Regions from separate parts of the Homo sapiens genome. Here region 2 is linked to region 1. Evidence: fine-mapped expression QTL. A gene starts in region 1. The other region holds a variant in brackets. All regions are shown on one strand. Distances are between the middles of the regions. Region 1 holds the start of LRP2 (LDL receptor related protein 2). Region 2 overlaps LRP2 (LDL receptor related protein 2).

The links.
Region 2: its variant is fine-mapped to the expression of LRP2 in nasal epithelium (TOPMed, PIP above 0.99).

What each region holds. Positions count from the first base shown.
Region 1 is chr2:169,356,501-169,367,859 of GRCh38, forward strand. LRP2 (LDL receptor related protein 2) reads right to left here and starts at 6,034. Exons shown (of 79, transcript NM_004525.3): 1 at 5,821-6,034. The coding sequence starts at 5,899. RefSeq lists a silencer at 938-1,122 and enhancers at 5,885-6,518, 6,519-7,152.
Region 2 is chr2:169,289,015-169,300,373 of GRCh38, forward strand. It overlaps LRP2 (LDL receptor related protein 2), which reads right to left. Exons shown (of 79, transcript NM_004525.3): 5 at 5,586-5,696; 6 at 5,134-5,247; 7 at 3,239-3,355; 8 at 1,831-1,983; 9 at 12-131. Among named protein-coding and RNA genes, the nearest start is that of LRP2, 68 kb to the right of the region's middle. The variant G/A (reference allele first, on the strand shown) is at 5,147.

The DNA.
Region 1 (11,359 bases):
CCCCGTGAGGTAGATATATGTCCATTTTACAGATAAGAAAACTGCCCCAGAGCACCCAGCATGTGTGGTACTGGATTTCCCAGATAATAAATGGCAGAGGTAGGAATCAAACCAAGATCCTCCAACTTCAAAATCACAAGCCCTTCCCACTTCATCTCAAAACACTGTAACTGTCAAGAAATTACTTCGGAAACATTTGCATTAGGAACATGTGAAGAACCACAGAAATGCTCTTGACATTTCAAAACAACTACTAGCTGATCATTATCAAGAAGCATCCCAGAACTCGGATGCTGAAACATCTCCAATCTTTCTAATGCTGGTGAGATCCTGGGCAGGGTTATTAGGAATGAGTCAATGACTATTTCAGAATCTTAAATGCAAAACTGCAGTCCATTTTAATTGCGAGATATGTAGACACCTCTTTTCAGTTCTCATCTTCCTTAATGTTTCTGTAGTATTGATACTATTGACTCATCAGCACACTGTTGATATTTAATAAATATTCATGGAAAAAATAAAATAAACATTCACAGAATACACAATAGTGGTAAAAATTTTTAATTACTCAAGACTATAAAGTTAATAGGATACGATAGAACCATTTGATTTATACCAAAGGTTCCATCAAGCTTATTTTTTCCATGCTAGAATAGGGCTTCACAATTAGTATTTTTTTAGTTGCTCTAGATTCGTGCAGTCAACCTTGAGAACCCCTTTCCTATCCATTCAACACTCTTTCATAAGCACCTTCTACTTTCTTTTCTTTTTTTTTTCTTTTTTATTTATTTTTATTTTATTTTATTTTATTTTATTTTATTTTATTTTATTTTATTTTATTTTATTTTTGAGACAGATTCTTGCTCTGTCACCCAGGCTGGAGTGCAGTGGCACAATCTCAGCTCACTGCAATCCCTGCCTCCTGTGTTCAAGCAGTTCTCCTGCCTCAGCCTCCCGAGTAGCTGGGATTACAGGTGTGCGTCACCACGCCCAGCTAATTTTTGTGTTTTAAATAGAAACAGGGTTTCACCATGTTGGCCAGGCAGGTCTCGATCTCCTGACCTCATGATCCTCCCGCCTCAGCATCCCAAAGTGCTGGGATTACAGGCATGAGCCCCCACGCCCAGCTCAGCACCTTCTACTTTCTACTTACCTTGTTCTAGCTACTAGGACTTAACAGAAACTCCAAAGCCAATATGACAATGCACTTGCTTCTGATTACACAGGAAATACATCTAGGTTCCTGGTATCATTATTTTTAAATGATAATTTAAAATTTTAATTTAAATATTTTAAAAACCTTTCAGTGTTCTTACAGTGCCTGACTAGAGAACATGAACAATGATTATGACCTAATAATTACCTTTAGTAAGACTGAAAACCTAGTCTTACAGCAGCCTGCACTACAAAACCCAAAGATCTTCAGGAATGCGCTTTGATGGCTCAAGAATTTGAAAAATGGATCTGGAGGTATGGTCTTTGGGAGTAGGGGCACTGACATGGCATCAGTTCTGGACCAAGCTGAAAGCGCATGGTACATGGTTGTAATAACCTATCACAGGATTCCTCTTTGGCCAGGGACAGGTAACCCATCCAATTGTTTTTAAGATTCATCTGCTTATCAGACTGTGCCTTATCTGGCAAGTCAGGATTCCAAAAGGAATCTAGAAATCTCAACCAACCAAACAGGCTGGGGACATTCAGAAGGCATGAATCTAAAAAATGGTCCACTGCAAATTTATATCTTAGCTCTGTCACAGGCTAGATGTCCTTAGGCAAGAAACCTATTAACCGCCTTCCCTTTCATCCTCTCAGCCCCTTTCTTCTCCCTCCTGGGCTAATTGCTTATCTGTAAGAAAAAAAAAATGCAAGCAGACCAGTTGATATCTAAGGTTCCCTCTAGCTGTAAAAAGTCTGAGTTTCTATTAAAATGAGACAGGTGCATGACTGAAGGGAGTTCAGGCAGAAGTCTTATGAAGACTGGTAAAGAGAAACTTTTTCAAGTAGAGAAAGAGAAGCCAACAACTGTGAAATTAAAGCAGCAGTGAGGTTCCAGAGTTGTGATGGAATAAAAACGATACAAGTTTGCTATTGCCCCCACAATCCTTTTAAACATATAAACTTCATGTGAAGATGTAATTGTCATAAAAGCTGATACTAACTCTTAAAAACATTACCACATTTTTATTGGATTAAAGAATATAATGTTGGACCAGGTAAGGTGGCTCCTGCCTATAATGTCAGCACTTTGGGAAGCAGAGGTAGGAGGATCATTTGAGGCCAAGAGTTCAAGACCAGCCTGGGCAACACAGTGAGACCCCATTTCTATTTTTGAAAAATAAGTTTTTTTAATTAGTAAACAGAATACAACTTTGTTTAAGGCCAATACGATTTTCTCAAAAAAAAAAAAAAAAAAGAAAAAATCTTCCAATCACATGCTAGGGTCTGAGAAGTCTTCAGAGAACTGTTAGTGAAAAATGCTTAAAGAAGACTTTCCTTTGTATATTTGAAAATTGGAAATGGAAATAGGAATAGGAAGCAAAACAATATGTTACTTTAAGGGTTGATAAATATAATAAAAATATTGTATTTTTAGATTATTTTCTAGTTTATTTTCACTGTCTATATGCTTTACACCATGCTAAGCACTTGGCATATTTTATCTCTTTATGCTTACAAGATGTCATTGGGTAAATTCTCTTATTATCTTGTCAATTTTGCAGATAAGCCATCTGAGCTATGCAAAGTTGGTTGACTTTCCCAAGGTCACACAGCTAGAAAGTGGTAAAGCCAATGTTGGAACCCAACAGCTTGACTCGAGTTCAGACTCTGCAAAATGTTTTTTCTTGAAAAGCATTACACAAAAGATAAGGAAAATGCAAATAATTTTTAACAACAGATGTGGTATAATTTTTTTCAAAGACTAAACATAGAATACTCAGAGCTCTTTTTTTTCCCCTCCAATTTTTAGTGATGCGAAGTTTGCAATGGTAGCCTACCTAAAAGGTAGTGCTTAAATAAAGGCTGTTACAATCTCATTGGATTTTACTTCATATATTAAGTCAGGATCATTACAACAGGATTCTAGAAATCTCAACGTATCAGGCAGAGGACATTCAGAGGAAATGCGTCTTAAAATGATCAAGTAGGAAGACTGGGAATGGGGAGACTTGGGTTCTGGTCTTAGAAACCTGAGGAGAGATTCTGGAAAAAGATCCACAGTTATGAAGCAGCAGGTGGTACGAGTTGCATATTGCCCCTCAGCTTCTTTGGGAACCTCAAACATGGACAGTAAGTTAGGGAGCATGACATTTTTTGTACAAAAGAAAAAAGAGAAATCGGGCCAGGTGCAGTGGCTCACACCTGTAATCCTAGCACTTTGGGAGGCCTAGGCGGGCAGATCACTTGAGGTCAGGAGTTCAAGACTGGCCTGGCCAACATAGCAAAACCCTGCCTCTACTAAAAATACAAAATATTAGCTGGGCATGGTGCCCCGGGCTTGTAGTCCCAGCTACTTGGGAGGCTGAGGTGTGAGGATCGCTTGAACCTGGGAGGCAGAGGTTGCAGTGAGCCGAGATTGCACCACTGCACTCCAGCCTGGGTGACAGAGCGAGATTCTGTCTCTCTCAAAAAAAAAAAAAAAAAAAAGAGAGAGAGAGAGAGAGAAAACCAGACACTGTATACTGTAGCAATTATAGACTCTGAATTCAGAATCCCTTGAGTTTGCCATTTTCTAGCAGTATGAACTGAGACAAATTACTGAATTGTTCTGTGCCTCCACTTTCTCATCTGTAAAACAGTGATAATAAGAGTACTTACTTCCAAGGGATATTATGAAGATTAATTGAGTCAATAAGTATAAAGTGCTTAGAACAAAGCCTGCCACATATATGTGTATGCTAGGTTACTATTACTATACACATTATTATTATATATTATTATCATAGAATGGAAGATGGATGGGTGCAAAAAACTATCAAGAAGAGTAGGTATTGGTTATTTAGTGACTAAATCATCAACCCAGGAAAAAGAATATCTGTTTTGGTTGTACAAGGACATAGATGAATCAAGGTAAGATTTCCTTTTGCCAGGCACTGACAGGAACATATAGTAAATCCTATAGCTATATTTAGGACATGAGATACAACCCTAAGCATTGTGCAAACTCTGCACAATAATAATAAACCCTCTTTCTGCGTTACCAACACTGAGAAAGGGTGTTCAAAGGAAGGTTATTAATGATCTCTCCTTGCCTCTCCTGCCTTTCTGAAGACTTTTGCAAGACCTGTGGGGTTTGTTAGGGTTTCCAAACTTCTTCCCAGGAAGTCTGAAATGGGTGCTGCTAGGAGTTGCTGTATAATTACTTACTTGATTCCCTCTAAGGAGCTTACGCTAAGAATTGAGGAAAGAAAGCAGATTAACCATTTGAATACATGCCACGGCCCATCCACAAGCCCTCCCCTCACTCCTCCGTAAATGGGGGCTTCCACATTCCCCACCCATCAACCCCAATATGTGATCCAGGAAAATCAATTTATTGCTTTGGCTAATCCTACAACAATAGGGGTTTCATTTTCATTGTAGGGCAATTAAGTTGTCCGACGGGAGGGAAGGAGCAGGAGGGGAAAGGGGGGACTCTCCCATCCCCACAGACAGATTAGTCCCTGCGGTGGCAGCAGCGTCCCCTCTGTCTGTCTGGTGGTCGGTCACACGCAGCTCCCGGCTGCTACCTAGCAACGCAAAGCCAGGGGGAGAGCTCGCCGGTTCCAGCCTCCTCCTCGCCCTTCCCATTCATCCTCGGCCGGGTCTCTGTCTCTCTGTCTCTCTCTGTCTCTCTCTGTCTCTCTCTGTCTCTCTCTCTCTCTCTCTCTCTCTCCCTCTCTCTCTCTCTCTCTGTCTCTCTCCTCTCTCTCCTCTCTCTCTCTCTTCTCCCGCCCCAGTCGTTCTCTTCCCTCCTTCTTTCCTTATTCCTATTTGCTTCTCTTACGCTCTCTCCTCTTCCCTTCTTACTAGTTTTATTCTCTCCGCTTCTTTCTCCCTCTCTTTCCCTCTTCTCTGTTTCTGTTAAAACATAAACTATCGGACAACTTGAGAGAAGTTTAAAGCACTTCATACTAGAAACTTTCTGCATTCGATCCCCAAAACTCTGGCCATGCAGACGGGCCCCATTCATCAACACAAAAGCCCCCAGCTCCCAGCTGGAAAGGAAAACTTCAAGAAAAGACTCCAGTCCCTCAGCCACTCTCTCGGCCAATCCCACCTCCCGGCCTTATCTTGGCTCGTAAATGATCTGTATGGTGAGAGCGGTCTCTGGGGGTCACCGCGGGACCAAGTTTCGCCGGTGGTGGGAGGAGTGCTCTGGCCCGCGGCCCTGGGCGCGCGAAGGGATCCCGGGAGGGGCGCTGCAGGTGGAAAGCTGCGCTCTGAGCAGAGCCCGGGACCGCGCCGCCCAGCAGAGAACTCCGCTAGGGAGGGCAGGCTGCAAACGGCGGAGAACCTCGTTCTCCCGCAAAGTGCTTTCCAGGAGCATCGGACCAACGCCCGTGGGAACAAAGACAGGGTCTCCGTGGGGTGCGCTGTCACCGAAACTGGCGGGGCTGCTTTCTCAAGTTTGCTGCCGCTCAGTTCCTGGCGAGCGAAGAGGGGCGCTCCCGCTCCGGCTTCGCGAAGCAACCTGAGCGCCCCACCGGGAGCAGCTCCCGCGCCGCCGCCCGGCCCTAGCCCCTGCCCGGACGCTCTCCCCTCCGGCCTCCCGCGGACCCGACCCTGCCACAGCCGGGGAAGTGGGGGCTCCACGAGAGGCTCTGGCTGGGCTCTTACCTTGGCCACTGGCCGGCGCTAGGCAGGCGACGAGAGCCAGGAGCAGCGTGCACGCCACTGCTGCCGGCCCGCGATCCATCTCCGCGACGGTCCCCGGCCTCGCCGTTCCTTCCCCGGGAGGTGGGCGCGCGTAGCACACCGCACCGGCAGCGCCTCTGCTAGCGAACGCTCCTTTAGGTCTGCACCTCCGCCAGCTCCTAGTGGCCAAAAGCCTGCCCCCACGCCCGAGGCATCCCGTTTTCTACCCGCGCCAGTCCCCACCCTCCAGACAGTGCATAAAGCCCTTTAGACCCGACCGCCCCGGAACAAGCATGCGGGAATCCAGCGGGCAGGCCCCCTGCCGCCCGGCCCGCCCCCTGCACTTTGCAGCGCGGGGAGGAGTGGGCACTCGAACACACGCGTGCTCACACAGGGACACTCACACAGGCGTGTGCACACTCACACACGCACTCATACAGGCGCATGCACTCCTAAGTGTCACACCAACTGACACAGATTCACTCATACACGCCAGTCACACACGCGCGCACATTCCACAGTCACACTTCAACGCCGACATACACAGTCCCCTTTACGCGTGCATACAAGAGCACACTCCTGTGCGCACACTCTCACAGGCACACTCACACGTGCACACGCGCTGCCCTCGCCTCTCCGCAGGGTTTGCCCCGCACAGAAGCCGGCGAGGCGGCTCACGGGGAAATCTGCACGGACGCAGTTTTACTAAATGAGCAATGGAAAGAAATGGACGAGGAGGAAAGTCAAGAATAGAGAAGAGAAAGAAAAAATAAGAAATGGAAAAGGAAAGCACAACCAGACAAGTAAAAATGAAGGAAAGAGAAAGAAAGGGAAAGAGGCGGGGGTAGGGAAGGGAAGGAGTAAAGAGCCTGCTGGATGGAGATCTGTGACCTTCATTCCTGGCCTGATCTCTCTAGGCTCCTTCGGATATCTTGGTTTCCCCTGATAGGATACAGGCTGCTGAGATGGGGTGCTTTGTGTTTTTACAAATTAGAGAGGGAGGTGGATCTTTGTTGGGGAGGTTGGATCCTTATTTAGCAATTATTCAGCACCACATCTACAGGTGTCATGGCCAGATCGTGCTTCTTACAAGTCTGCTCATTTTGAAGCAAAATTGAAAAAGAGCGAACGTCTTCTCCATGGTTCCGGTACCCTTTTATAAGAAGGAGAAACACGAGAGGTTCAGGGAACCCCTAGCCTCCCTTCTTTGGGGCCGCTTTGGACAGGCTGGCAAGGGGCCCGGAAGCCAAAAGCACAAGTGGCCTTACACCCGCCCTCAGCGCACGTCCTCAGCCTGTACGTGACATCAGAGCCCACAGGGAGGGGTAAAAAAGGAGGGTTGATGCAAGTTATTTCCCGGTGGTGGGAACCCTGTGTGAGAAGGGGCTGTTTGCGGGCCTGAGGCCATCCCATCATCTCCAGCTCCAGCCCCTGAACCAGCGCGGCAGCTAGTCCCAGGCTCCGGATCCTGGTCCAAGAAGTCAGGAGCCCTTTCCCTCCAGCGAAGGGGCCGTGACGCATGGAGGAGACAGCCCTGAACGCACGTGGTCGCTGGACAGGTTCCCGCTGCCTCCCTTCCCCAGGGGCGAGAACCTGCCAATTACTGCCAGCCCCTTTCCCCGGGGCACAGGTCGTCCGGGGCTCTGCTGACCCCAACAGTCCGGATCGCGTAGCTTCCGTGGGCTGCAGTGGTAGGCGCAGCTTTAGGTGTGGGGGCTAGGGGAGGGAAAGGATAGGTGTTACTTTGGAAAGACAAAAAGAGATAAATAGACACAAAAAGAGAAAACTTAGGCTTAAAGAAAAAAAGGTGGAGCGGGCAGCGTTGTGGGAAAGAGTGGGAGAGATTCCTGGATTGGGAAATCCAGAGGTCTGTGCTCTGGCCAAAGTCACTGGTTCTCTATTTGCCTCCCTGCATAGTGTTGGGCGCTGTGCGGCGCGGAGGAGACAGGACTGGGGACAGGAGAGCCGGGGTCTGGGGAGGGAGGGGGCGACCGGACCGGAGCGGGAGGAGGGAGGCGGCGAGGGGGCTTGATGCTGCACTCCAGTCTTCGCGGGTGATTTATGCCGGTTCCGGGCGGCCGAGGCGATGGTACGAGACCGCGCCGGGGTCAAGCCGGTCCGACGCCCGCTGGGGCCGCGCTGCATAGTCAATGAGCGTCCCCGCACCTCCGACTTACAAAGAGCGGCCGCCGGCTGGCGGGAGGGAGGAGCGCGAGTGCGGGAGGGGCTGGGCTCCCTCCAGTGCGCCCGTGGGCGCGCAGGCGCGAGCGTGTGTGTGTGTGTGTGTGTGTGTGTGTGTGTGTGTGTGTGTGTGTGTGTGTGTGTGTGCCCTTTCACTGTAGCAGCCAGGGCTCCAAACATTCCTTTCTGTACTGAAGAGTTCCTCAATTGTTGTTGTCTTTGTGCTCCAGTGTTGCCAACTTACTGGAATTCCTGACGTGGTTGCACAGCAGGGCTCAGGCTGACCGTACTAGCCAGCTGCGTTTGTGTATGGGGCCGACCCCGCCGTTAATCCCAGAATAACGCAGAAGAGGGGAAAGGAGGGAGGGAGAACGGGAGGTAGGAGAGCAGAAAAGGGGTAGGGATGGGGGACCACCTAGCGGAGCACAGCCCATCATTCGCAGCACTCTGTATGTGGACCCACACACTTTTCCACTAGAATAACCCATTTTCTCAATGCAATCCCCAATTCGTGACGTTTGAAAACAGCCTGCACCATGCACGTGTTTATCTCTGGCATCCATACCTGAGAATGCCTGTTACTAGATTGGGGTGATTAAATCTATGGACCAGTATCTGGGAAAGCCCAGGTTAATTCAGTTGCAATTTAAGCCAGCAGTGTTTCTCTATAATGCAAAAAGATAATTTCTTTAGTTTTCACATTTCTCTCTCCATATATGTATATAGGACTTTTCAGAGCAGTCAACCGAAAGAGACAGGTGAAAGTGAAACCAAGAAGCTTCAGCACCACCATTGCCCCAGAAGCCAAGCTGAAATTTACATCATTCTTGACTCCTTCTTTTTTCCACCCCCATTGCCAATCAATCATGAAATTCTGTTACCTCAAATTTATCAATCCACTCATCAATCTAAATTATAGGGAGAGCCTTAGAATGAGCTCCTTGCTATCAGTTTTGCCCCCTCCCATCTACTTTCCATTTGGCAACCAGACAATTCAACTTGGTAGTTCTATCAAACTAGTGCTTGCAAACAGAGGTAATTACTTTTTAGAGGGTAATGAAATCAATTTAGCAGGTCAAGGCAAGAATTATATTCAAATGAAATATAACAACATAGAAACCAAAATAACTTTCATGTGGAAAAGATATGTATAACTTTATAACACTACTGTTTCTGTGTGTGTGTGTGTGTGTGTGTATGTGTGTGTTTCCTCCTGAGTGCCTCCTGAGTTTCCTCCTGAGAGCCAACTGCCCCCTGAACAGCTCCAATCCAATGTCCTAAGGCCTCAAACTCAGCAGGATGGAGCCCAAACCAATACACACACACACACACACACACACACACACACACACTGTGTCGCCATGTAAAATATATTTCTCATATGCATCTCAGCCAAAAAAGTTTAAAGTATCTCCCCACAAATTACTTATTCATTAAAAAGGGAAAAAGTGACTTTAAGCAGAAAAATATGTCAGATATTTTAATATGTTTCATTATTATTTAAATATGATAAAGTCAACAGACCAAAAGATAACTGCCATTGAAAATATAGTTTGTTATATTCACAGATCCCAAGAGAAGGAGTACACATCTTGCCTCAAGGGACCACACAGGGAAGCAGAGGGCAAGGGGAGAAGTGTGGGCAAGCTCCTTTACTATGGTTTCCACCTAAAGGAACAGACAAGGCAGAGTAAGCAGGTTTAGGACTGACTAATTTGTATTTATAAAACAAGCAGGAGGTCAAAGCAAGATGACTAATATGTCAGGCATATTAACAGATTATCTAGAACAAAGTGTATATGGCATGTGCATGCAGGACAGATGTTAAACATGAAGTTTAGGCCCAGCACAGTGGTTTATGCCTGTAATCCCAGCACATTGGGAGGTTGAGGCAGGAGAATCACTTGAGGCTTGAGCCTAGGAGTTGGAGGCTGCAGTGAGCTATGATCACATCACTGCACTCCAGTGAGAACCTGTCTCTCTCTCCCCTATATATATTAAGGCATTATATTTATAGAAGCTAGAAATGTGGTAAATACAATAGGCTCTACATTGAACCAAGGAATCAAAGTCAACACAACAATCAAAACTAATATGAGGCAAACTGACATCATGTTCCTCCTGGTGTGACACACTCTGAAGGACACAGCAGCACTTCTGTGGTATTACTGTGCATGCCCCAAATCTAAGCATGAGAAAACATCAGTCAAACCAATGTTTTCTCATTTTTTAGAATGTCCAAACTAAGGGACATTTAAGTACTAAAGTACAGTATTTGCAGTATATTTTGTATACTTCAAAAATGGCAAGGTCATAAAAGATAAAGAAAGGCTGAGATATGCAGTTTAGAAATATGCAGTGCATGACCCTAGGGTGGATCTTGGACTGGGAAAAAAGTATCTCTAGAGGATGTTATGGGGAAAATCAGATATGCATGCCCTCAGAACTCTCTTTACTTCCCTCAGCCCAGCACTTGTCACATTTGTTGTGTTCCCATGGCCTTCTCAAAATTCTTCTCCCTCTGCAACCAGAATAATCTTTTTTAGTCATTATGCCAACCATACACTTGCCTGATTACAACCTTTCAATCACTTTTCCATTTTTCCACAATAAAATGAAAAATTTTTAGCATAGCCTACAAACCCTTGCATGATTGGGCCTTTGACAATATCTCAAACTTTACTTGACAGTTCAGCCACCCTGGCCTCCACTTGGTTCTTCGAACATGTACTACGTGCTTTCGCAGCCTTGAAGGTGAGATTAAGATACGTAGGTAACCCTCCCAAGACTAAACCAGGAAGAAGTTGAATCCCTGAATAGACCAATAACAGGCTCTGAAATTGAGGCAATAATTAATAGCCTACCAACCAAAAAAAGTCCAGGACCAGATTGATTCACAGCCAAATTCTACCAGAGGTACAAGGAGGAGCTGGTACCATTCCTTCTGAAACTATTCCAATCAATAGAAAAAGAGGGAAACCTCCCTAACTCATTTTATGAGGCCAGCATCATCCTGATACCAAAACCTGGCAGAGACACAACAAAAAAAAAGAGAATTTTCGACGAATATCCCTGATGAACATTGATGCAAAAATCCTCAATAAAATTCTGGCAAACTGAATCCAGCAGCACATCAAAAAGCTTATCCACCATGATCAAGTGGACTTCATCCCTGGGATGCAAGACTGGTTCAACATACACAAATCAATAAATGTAATCCAGCATATAAACAGAACCAAAGACAAAAACCACATGATTATCTCAATAGATGCAGAAAAGGCCTTCGACAAAATTCAACAGCCCTTCATGCTAAACAATCTCAATAAATTAGGTATTGATG
Region 2 (11,359 bases), 67 kb before region 1:
CCATCACTTACCAACACAGGTACGGCTGTCATTGTGGTTGATGATATAACCTGGGGGACAAAAACACGCTCCTCCATACGGCGTCTCATGGCACTGGTACTGGCAGTTCAAGGCAGAGCACAGAGTCATACCTAAACGAAGAAAAGAACTTTGTTAAATGAATGGTGACCTCTGGACAAGACTGATTAATCTAATAGCTTCTTTTTCCATGAGTAGCAGCTCAGTAAGCATGAAGTAGATGTACAGAAAAATCTGTCACCCTTCAAAGCTTACTGCAAAACTTTGCAATAAAAGTTCAACTGAGACAGGAAGATTGCTTGAAGCCAGGAGATCAAGACCAGCCTGGGTAATGTAGCTACACCTCATATTCACAAAAAATTAAAAATAAAAGCATTAGCCAGGCACAGTGGCTCACAACTGTAATCTCAGCACTTTGGGAGGCCAAGGCAGGAGGATCACTTGAGCCCAAAAGATGGAGGCTGCAGTGAGCTATGACTGCACCACTGCACTCTAGCCTGGGTGACAGAACAAGAGGCTGCCTTGAGTGGAAACAAAAGAAAAGAAAAAGCTCCTTTTTAAAGTTATAACTATGTGCAAGTATAAGTCATTAAAAGTCTTATTTATGAAAAAAAAATCAGGTCATGCATGGGTCTATCTTTGTGTCTACATAGTAAAAAGGGCTAAGAACTCCCAAGTGACTGGAGCAAGAATAAGCCCTAGAAATATTAACTGTGGCTGGCTTCAAGAGATGGGATTTCAGGTGATTATATTTTTTTCTTTTGGTTAATTTTTATTTTCCAACTTTCATACTGTGACTACATATCTCTTATTAATTTTTAAGCTTTTTTAAATGGGCTCCCAAATGAAATAGAGAAAAAAATGCCATAGAGGTCTCTGCCTGTTTAAATATTATGTACAATTTTTGTCAGGAAACAAAAAATAACCTTGGGGTTGCAGTTACATGGGCACTTCTAGGCAATCACAAATTTAGTTAGAGTATATTATTGATGAAATCAAGGTTTTAAATGGCATTTCCTTACAGGACCATCAGCTGTCCACAGAGTTGATGGGTTGTTGGTGGGGTGAATATTCTACAGCCCCAAAAAAGGAGAAAAAAAATCCCTAGTTCCAGTCAGTTTCCTCATAAATGAATGTGGTCACACAAGACATAATCGAACAACACTGTGCATGGCCAACTCAGTTTTGCCATTGGAGAGTAACTCAAGGTACATAACCCAGGAACCAGAAGCTTTTTTTTTTTTTTTTTTTTTTTTTTTTTAGTACAGCCAGACAAGGCCTTTTTCCATAAGTATAAGCCAGGTAATAAAATCTCCAGAACATCTTTAAGGTCATCAAAATTGCCATTGAAACAATCCTCCCTGTGTGTGCGTTAGGGATTAGGAACGGGGAGTTGCTAAAAAATTGTTAGGCTCTTCCCATCAATAGATGGAGTCTATTTCTTCCATCCACTCTGGGTTTGGCCAAGTGTCTTGCTTTGGACAATAAGACTTGAGCAAACTTGGCATAAGTAGAACCTTGAAAGTACTTGAGCCCTAGGATTTGCTCTTTCAGCCTCTGGGTCAACAAGGCTAGGCTAGCCCAAGCTTTTACTGCAACATCCTGACGTGTGAGTGAGCTGATACAGGCCAGAGGAACTACCTAGCCAACCCACAGAACTGTGAGAAATAAGACACGTTTCTCAGTTTATGCCACTAAGTCTTGGGGTGCTTTGTTATGCAAATGCCAACAGATACACTGTATTTGAACGTCTGTTCTAGAAAACAGAAATATCTTTATCTGAAAGCTACCCAGGTAAATGTCTATACTCACTACAGTATTTTCCGGTACTAGTGTTGTTTTCATCTTCTCTTCCTGGGCAATCTAAAATCCCATCACAAACTTTATAAATGGAGATGCATCGTCCCGACTCTGGGCAAGACCATTCTCTTGGGGAACATTTATGAACATCATGAGGACCGCTTTCTGTGGGGGGAAAAAGAGAGAGTTACAGGCCATAGGGGAGGTACAGCCAGCTCTTTGTTAATCAGTGGTTTACAGAGGATGTAGAGCAAGTTGAACAAGAGAAATCTATAAATGATCTACATTTTACAATAAGTTAGTGATTTCTAACTCTACCACTAGTCTTTTACTGAGATTCTAAGGAGAGGCATAATGGAATTACTCCACTTTTCCTGGAAAAGGCAGCCCCCAGTAGGGTTATAAGAGGAAGAAGCAGATATGGGCCTCAATTATCGACAAACTAAATTCATGATCCCCTAAGAAAAGATGTAGTTATTTAAATCATGAATTATAGAATTAGGGCCATCAAGTTAGGTCCAGAATTACTTGAATTTGTGGTTGGGCTTTTTGATTTGCTTTGTTTATTTAGTGAAATGTCAACAGTATAAGAAAAACCATAACCCAAATGTAGAAAAACCACTTTCTGGAACATAAAAACATAAAACATAGTTTTAACAAGCATTTCCCTTATCATACCTGGGATTGGAATGGTGCAGGTAACTTGCTGTAGGGTATGGGTATTAGTAACTGCTAAATTGTTGGAGGTACTGCTGATGATATCAGCAACATAAAAGGGTCAATATCAGCAACATAAAAGGGTGAATATCACTGGCAATTTCCTTCTCACGGAATCTTTAAGCACTTCCCTGGATAGTAGCTTCTCCTACACTTACCATCCCCAGCTCCAACCCACGTGTTCCCAAGGTGGCCTCTCTTTCACCACTGAGTGTCAGTGACTCATTTGGGAATCAGAATTTACAAAACCAAAACAAAAAAATAAGCTGAACTGTTACCAAGGTTCAAAGTCATTTTTAAAGATTGTAAGGTCTAAGACAAATGACATTTTCCCTATTTTCTTTCCTTCCCCAGCCTATTAGTTTTATATAGTTTTAAATCTATTTAAAACAGGCAGTCTTACAGGGAGAAAGTCAGACTGGGGTATAGAAGAGACAGAGACTGTCCTACCTATTTTGCCTTAAAGATAGAAGGGAGAGGATTATAATTTAATCTGTATTTGTGTTCTGAATCTTCTTAGGAGAAGTTAGCGCAGTCACCTCCGTCTTCCCCACCCACTAAGTTCCTAAACAACCCCTTCAACTCCAGCCAATCCTGAGGCTTGCTTGTCACACAAAATTTCTAAAAAGGAAAGGAGAAAAAACAAGCGCTGGAAAACACTTGAAGAAAATGCTTTTCAGTAGGAATCTCTTCCCCTCCTTACCACATCCATCTTCATCTCCATTATCTTTACAGTCATCTTCTCCATCACAAACCCAGTTTTGATAAATGCATCGGCCACTGGGGCAAGTGAACTGGTAACCACCGCAGGTCGGATAGTCTGGAATAAAGCAACAGCTGCACTCCAAAGACACAAATCACCGGGAAAAACTGAAAGTGCTCTCACCTCACTGCCTAAGCAGTACTCCTAGAAATTGAAATTTCTATATCAATTTAATCCCTTAGACATCTTGACAAAAATTTTTAAAAAGGAGGAAAAAAAAGAGAGAGAAAGAAGAAGATAACAGCAGCTTTGGGTCCAGGAAATGAACTCAGGTGCCGGTTTCTGTTTTTCAAGATTAAAAATTAGATCAGCCTGGGCAACATGGTGAGACCTCATCTCTACCAAAAATACGAAAAATAAAAATAAATAGCCAAGCATGGTGGTACATGTCTGTAGTCTCAGCTACTCAGGAGGCTGAGGTGGGAGGATGGCATGAGCCTGGTGGGGGTGTGTGGAGTTGCAGTGAGCCAAGATCGCACCACTGCACTCCAGCCTGGGTGACAGAGTGAGACCCTGTCTCAAAAAAAAAAAAAAAAAAAAAAAAAATTAAAAACAAGATGGTTTGCAATGCGTTGGCACAGAACAGAAAATGCAGACAAAGATGCTGCAGACATGACAACATCCAACGTTCTCATACTTTACTACAAGCTCCGTAATTGCTAATCTATGACCAAATGATTCTGAGTCGACCATTCCATGATGTCACATTCTCTTTAATTCTCTGTCACTGAAATAAGCCCAGGTTCCAGAAAGGAAGTCAGGCATGGCTCATTGAAAATTAGGGTGATATCGAAAATATTTAACAACACCCTAAGGCATGGGTACCAACCAATCAAAAGAGGTGTGGAGGGAAATCATACATTCTAGTAAATAAATCACCACGCAAAGCTGCCAACTTACTGAACATAGTAAAACTCTTTCACAGAGTCTTCTAACTTTACTCTTTCCAAAAAACATAAGTGGAGAGGTGGCAACAATAAGAGAGGTCATTTGCATTGCAGGCAACAGCATGGACATAAAAGCAAGGTCAGCGTGAAGAAGTGGAGGCAAGAAAGCCACCTATACCACACTGAAACTTTCAGGCTGGGCGTGGTGGCTCATACCCATAATACCAGCACTTTGGGAGGCCGAGGCGGGCGGATCACTTGAGATCAGGAGTTCGAGACCAGCCTGGCCAACACGGTGAAACCCCATCTCTACTAAAAACACAAAATTAGCCAGACATGGTGGTGCATGCCTGTGATCCCAGCTATTCGGGAGGCTGAAGCAGGAGAACTGCTTGAACCCAGGAGGCGGAAGTGGCAGTAAGCCGAGATCGCGCCACTGTACTCCAGCCCAGGCAACAAAGCAAAACTCCATCTCCAAAAAAAGAAAACGAAGAAAAAGAAACTTTCCTGACCCTCCAACTTTAATGCAGCAGAAATTTCAAAGTAAAGAGGAGAGTTAGAGCCACTCCTAGGAACTTCCTTTCCCTTAAAAACACTTCTCTCATTCTACTATCAAGGTTGTCAGAGGTATGGGTCATTTGAGAATCCAGTGATACAATATATCCTGTACCCCTGGAGCCTAAGGAAAGAAGGCAAACTGTCCATCACCAGCCCTTTACATCTACACAGATCCTTGGAAAATAAAGGAGCCCAGGTCGAGCAACACCACAAAGGCTTGTGCCAAGACCCCCTAGTGACCGTCTGATTCCATCTGCCATCAAACGTAGTGACTCTTCTCCTTGAAAAAAGAGGTACATTGGTGGGGGAGCGGGGGGATAAAACAAAACAAAACCGAAACAAAACAAAACACTCCCAACAACATGACCCAGCATAAAGAAATCACCGTACTGCAAGCATGTTC[G/A]TCACTGCCGTCTTGGCAATCATTGTCATGGTCACAGACATAAGCACGAGGGATACACTCTCCATTGCCACATGAAAACTCATTGTGCAAGCATATCTCAGCTGCAACAGAAAGTTAAGAAGGGAAAGAAAAGAGAGAAGTTAACTCCATTGTAGCCATTTAATCTCAAAGGAAGAGCATCTCCAGTTTAAAAAGGGATTCTTATTAAGCAGTGGTGTGCTGGTAACTGTTTAAGAACCAGTTATCCAGGAACAAAAAGGCCCTGGTTTGTAGTGTTTGCCGATTTCCAGTGTGTAAATACTCCTACCAACGGCTGACTTCAAACTACCAACATGAATTCACTGAACCTGAACTTGGGAAGAGATGTACATATTGGCTCTCTCAAACCAGTATAAACCAGCTTCAGCACACAACTGCACATCTTGTGCACAATACTTACTGCAGTTGATTTCATCTGAGGAGTCCCTGCAATCAACTTTCCAATCACACTTCTGACTGGTGTTATAGCAGGCCCCATTGTCACAAGTAAGCTGCTCACATGTTGGGTACTCTATTGTAAAAAAAAAAAAAAAAAAAAAAAGGAAAAGGAAACAGTAAACAAACCTTAAATTTCCTTCAGCAAACATTTATTGAGTGATTACTATATGCAAGTCACTAAATGCATATATTGATACACAAAAGAAGTATGCTCCCTGGCTTCATGGAGAGTAAGGCTGGACATGGGAGACAGACATTAATCAAATAAGACACAAATGGTAAATTACAAACTGGGATAAGTGCTAATGTGGAAAGTACAGAGGACTGTGAGACTGCATAGCAGAGAGATTTGGGGGCCCAGAAAAGTATCCCCTGAAGAAGTGACTTTTGAGCCAAAAGATGAAGAATGAGAAAGAATTTAACTTTAGTTCAAAATCAAACATTCTTTTACATGATACAGATAACATCCCAGGAAACTAAAGTACCACTGCACAAGCTTGGAAAAAAGAAAGGCCATTTCTTCCACTGGCGGGTTGCAGAAAGAAAGCAGGCCTAGAGTTCAGGAGCCCTGGCGGCCCAGAGGTACCACTAAGCAGCTATTTACTGTGACTCAAGCTTCATGTCCTCTCCATGTTGCTACTTCCCTATCTGCACATTTGGATAACCTACTGCACAGGGTAGAGCGGCCTGAAAAGACCATGTCTGGTAAAGCATGTTGAAAAGCATAATGTGCTTTCAAAGCACAAATTGTTGTTGCCACGTTATGTACATATGACCACCTCACTGCTACTCACTGGACCTGGTTTTCTAGGTCACAGTTGAAAATCAGGAAGTCCCTTACAGGAATAACGTGCTATCTGTCCCTCCTCTCTACTTGCCAGACTTGGACCACCTGTCTCTCATGACTTCTTACTGGAGGCTTTATTCTGTGGATGGTTGATCTCTTTCCGCCATGACATAATGAAACTCCCTGAGATCAAGGATCCTGTCTTACTCATTTTAGAATCCCCAACAATTAGTACAGGGGTGGGACATTTCTCACTGTGCACACTTAGTACAGGGGTGGGACATTACTCTCTGTGCTTGAGAAATGTTCAATGTTGCTATTATTTATCACAGGTGAACATTTTAGTTCATTCGGCTTTTTAAAATATTTTGAAGTTCTGCCTTTTATGGCCTTTGAATACCCTCCTTTTCACAAATGTGGATATCTTCCTTGGTCTGACCATCTTCTTCATGAAAGATTATTTTTGTAGTGATTATCAGGTCATCTTCTGATTTCTTTTTAACCAAGGAAAAGGTATGTCTTAATTGACTTTGAGTCTCAATTTTGCACTTAAGAACCCAATTTGAGATTTTATAGAGATATAAATATATTGAAGATAATTCTTTGGATAGTCCCAAGTCTTTTCAAGCAGAAGCCATGCACAAAATTCTGTGCTGAAACTGTACTAAACTTGTGCCATGTTAACAACTTGCACTTTTTAAAAAAATGGACTCTCCAATGATCTTTTTTTTGGTATAGTAAAGGAATAAGCCTAACTCTTCTCATCTCCAGAGGTTCAAAGCTAGTTTATTAAGTGTCCTTAAATATCTCAATTGCCAGAGTTACATATAGTCAATCATATGTTAAAATGGAAGGCATTTTTAAATAGCTGGTTAAAATTTAAAATTTTTTCTGAATTTTATTTTGTTTTTTAATAGTCCAAAAGTGAGCCAGTGCCTAGAGTTATTGCGTCTTTCCTCGCTGAGATGATATGCCTTACAAATGTGCCTTCAAATGAGTCACACAACTCTCCCTTCAAGTGATGTTTATTAATTCTCCCTTCAAGAGATGCAAAAGACCAGGTGAGGTCAGCAAGCAATTCCTTTGCCCCTGTGAGCCAGATAGCTCCTAGAGTCAATGTGTTATCTAGCCTTTTAAGAGCAGCAGCAAGCAGAAGAAAAACTCGTAGAAAACCCAGCTCTTTGCAATAGATAAGCTATCTGTCTGGAGGAAAATTAATCTGGGCTTGAACGGTGGCTACTTCATTTAAGGTGATAATTATAAATATAAAGAATCTGGAATAAGTGTGCTGGATGGATCTCTCGTTTTCTTCATCCTGCTTTTTGAGAGCCAGTGCCAGAAAATTGAAAGGGGAAAGATTAAAACTGTAACCACTGACATGACTACAAGTTTACTGACAAGGCCCATTCCCCACCCAACAAACAAGAAGCCCAGCTTGATATCATCAGGGAGGGTATTGTGATGGCCAGAGGTCAGCAGTTTGACTTTTGGAATGAGGAACACACAGCTTTCTTGTCTCCATCCACACTGATAAAGAATCACTCTCAATCAGCAGAGGACCCCTCTCAACCCCTGCACACCTTGATCTCTTCGGTGCATAGTTAACCTGGGATGTATACTCATAGGAAAGATTGCACAGAGCTCCCTAACTCCACCAAATACTGAAAATACCTGAAAATCTGTTTCTGAATGGTTTTCCCTCTTTGGAGACCCACACAGAGACAACAGGTCCAAACTGTCAACACTGAGCAAAGAAAGAAATGAATGGATTCTACTACCATTGCTAAAGATGTTAATGAGTTTCAATCTACTCCAGAAAACAATAATTCACAATCCTTTGAGCTTCCAACTGGGAGATATCTAAAGTCTTATTTTTTGGTTCATTTGCTTGGCAAGCCTAAGTCTAACCTTCTTCCCACAGAGCAAATCCATCATGTGGCTATAATGTCCTGCAAGAATTTAAGTATAGGGTAAAGTGCAATATGAGAGGAGACCATATATAAGAACACCAAGGAAACTCTTCCTTCTGAATTTGGTTTTAATGGAAAGATCAACAAGTAGCTATAAATTAAGCCTCAGACCTTTAAGGTTTTTTCTAACACAAAAAGGTGAGAATATCCTTCCTCATACCACTCCTTGCTTCCCCTTTCTTTACTTTCTCCCAATCCCAAATGATACATGTTCAGATTTGTTCCCCCATAATTGGGAGCTGCCCCAAAATTATGCAGACAAGAGTTTTTATATTTTTTCACTGTTAATGATTTGGTTTGAAGCAAGAAATTTCTATGCTATAGTTCTGTTTACATAATCAGGGAGGAGGGTGTAGAAATGTAGTTTGAAGATCTTGTAGACCTCTTAGAATGGAAATCATTTTAAGCAGAGTAAGATACAAATATAAGGCACTGTTCATTATTATCTTGACAGGAAGACTGCAGACATGTTTTATTCTCACAATTTGACAACATGGCTGAGGACAACATAGAAAAAACCATTATTATGAAGAAGGAATCTTAAAAGTAGGTTAGGAAACTTAAGCCAAGATTGGGAAACACACACACACACACACACACAAGAAATTACCGATACAAGTCCAGCCCAGACACCTGGGACTTTTCAAGGTCCTAGAGTCATCCTTTATAAGTTACTTTATGTTATTTCCTCTGGCTCCAAGACAGATTAATCCAGTCAATGTAATGATTTGCCAGAAAGAATCTACCAGTTTGGCCACCAGCACTTACTTCAAGCGCTACCCACAAAGTTAAACAAGCAATCATCATCATCATCATCATCATCATCATCATCATCATCAATAACATGTATTAAAAACTATGTGCCAGACATGTGTCAAAGTACTCAATATGTATAAACTCATTTCATCTTCATAACAACTTCATGAAGTAAATACTATGATGACTCCCATTTTATAGAGTAAGAACCTGAGCATTAAGAGGTTAAGGAATTTGAAAAAGGTCACATAACTGGTAAAGTTGGAGAGCCAGAATTCAAATCCAATCAACCTGGCTCCATAACCCAGGTTACTAACCACTACCACAGATACATCTACCACTTATAGGCTGCAGAGTAAGTAACAGGAAGAAGCGAAAAATTAAAGAAGAAAGAAATTGAATGAAATGGTAATAGAAAATTCTTAAAAGAGATTATGAAAAGAAAAAGAAGAAACCCAAGAGGAAGGGGGGAAGATTTTCTTTCTGCCAGTCAGTTTCCCATCCACATTAGGAAGAAGGGAAAAGTGAGGCCAACTCTAGTTTCCCACAACTTATGGCATAGTTAACAAAGTACTTCAATATGATATAATCTAGGAATTCTAGGAAACCTACACAGGAAAAATAACTTTCCAGAAGGAGTACCAGGACAAACAGGAGAGTCAATACCAAAAAACAGGCCATAAAGTTAGTCTCATGAAGGTACCACCACGACTCCCCAAACCCCCATTCCTGGTGAATTTCAAGTCCCTAAAGTGACTGCCATCATGGACTAGCTCTTAGGGAATGCAGTAATATACAAGGAAAAAAACAGAGAAGCATATCCTTCCCCAGTCCAAAAGTAATTTGAAGAAGCTTTCAATAAAAAGTTATATAAAACCAGATTTATTAAAAAAGAAATTCAGAAAGAAGAAAGAAAGAAGGAAAGAAAGAAAGAAGGAAAGAAAGAAAGAAAGAAAGAAAGAAAGAAAGAAAGAAAGAAAGAAAGAAAGAAAGAAAGAAAGAAAGAAAAAAAGAAAGAAAGAAAAAGAAAGAAAGAAAGAAATTCAGCACCTTGGAAAGAGAAAGAAAATATGGTCATCCCGAGGACTTGTAGAATTGAACTAACATCAAGTTTAGTCTGGGTGGCTTTCAGGAAGCCAAAGGAAAAAGAGAAATAAACTAAGTTATCTAGTTTTCCTTAGCTCACTCCCTTTGTACTAACTGGGTCTTAAGCCTGAGATTCCTTGCTGGTCTCTATCCACAGTGACCTAATCTTAGACCTCAACTAGAAATGTGCCTGAGAGGGTTGCTCCAAGGAGTCCAGATCCACAGCACTGCCTTCTTCCCATAACAGAGCTATCACCAAAAACTGCAAAGGAGATAAAAACTGACATAGTTCTAAATTCCTTAAAAAAAAAAAAAACTCACACAAGCTCTATTACAAAAGTGACCGAGCAACAAGATGGAAAAATGTGCATCAAATGCTCCAAGGAATAGTACAAAGAAGTAAGATGCCTTCTAAGGGGTAAACAAATGTTTATAATGTACATCATGTTTAGTGGCACGGGGCTACATGTTTTCATTGAAAGCCAGACAACACCATGGTTTCATACTTTAGTAGTTATTCCCAGGGACCCACCTGGGCAGAACAAAAGACAAAATCTAATCAAAGAGACAGGAAAACTAGCTGCACCCCAGCATTATAAGAGTAGCCACTTTCCAATCACTAGAAATGGTGTGGCTCAGCCTCCCTGCTGGAAATGTAGCCCCAAATAATTTGAATACTCATCAGCAAATCATTGCTGGATGAATGTCAATATCCTAGAAACCAGTTATTCTACAGAGTGCTGCCTTCTTCTTAATTAGAATTCTCTTGTGCTCAACATGTATTTATTGAAATCTGACTTCATAGATACTGTGCTAAGAATTAAATTAAAAGGTAAACAAAATTACAAGTGAAGTAGCAATTCCCACAGCATTTTATTAATCAATCCATACAAAAATAATTATTGCACACCTATAGTGTGCAAGGTACTAAAGAATGAAATAAAATCCCATTTCTCATGGAACAGACATTCTATTTGGGAGAGTGAAATTACAGCTATTAAAGTAAATGTCACAATGGGAAAAAAAACTTGCAAAAATAGAGCTGGGTAAAAGGTAAAGAGTAACTGTGGGGAGTAGCTCTCTGAGAAGTGATATTTGAACAAGAACCATTAGGCTTAGCATAATGGCAGTCATTGG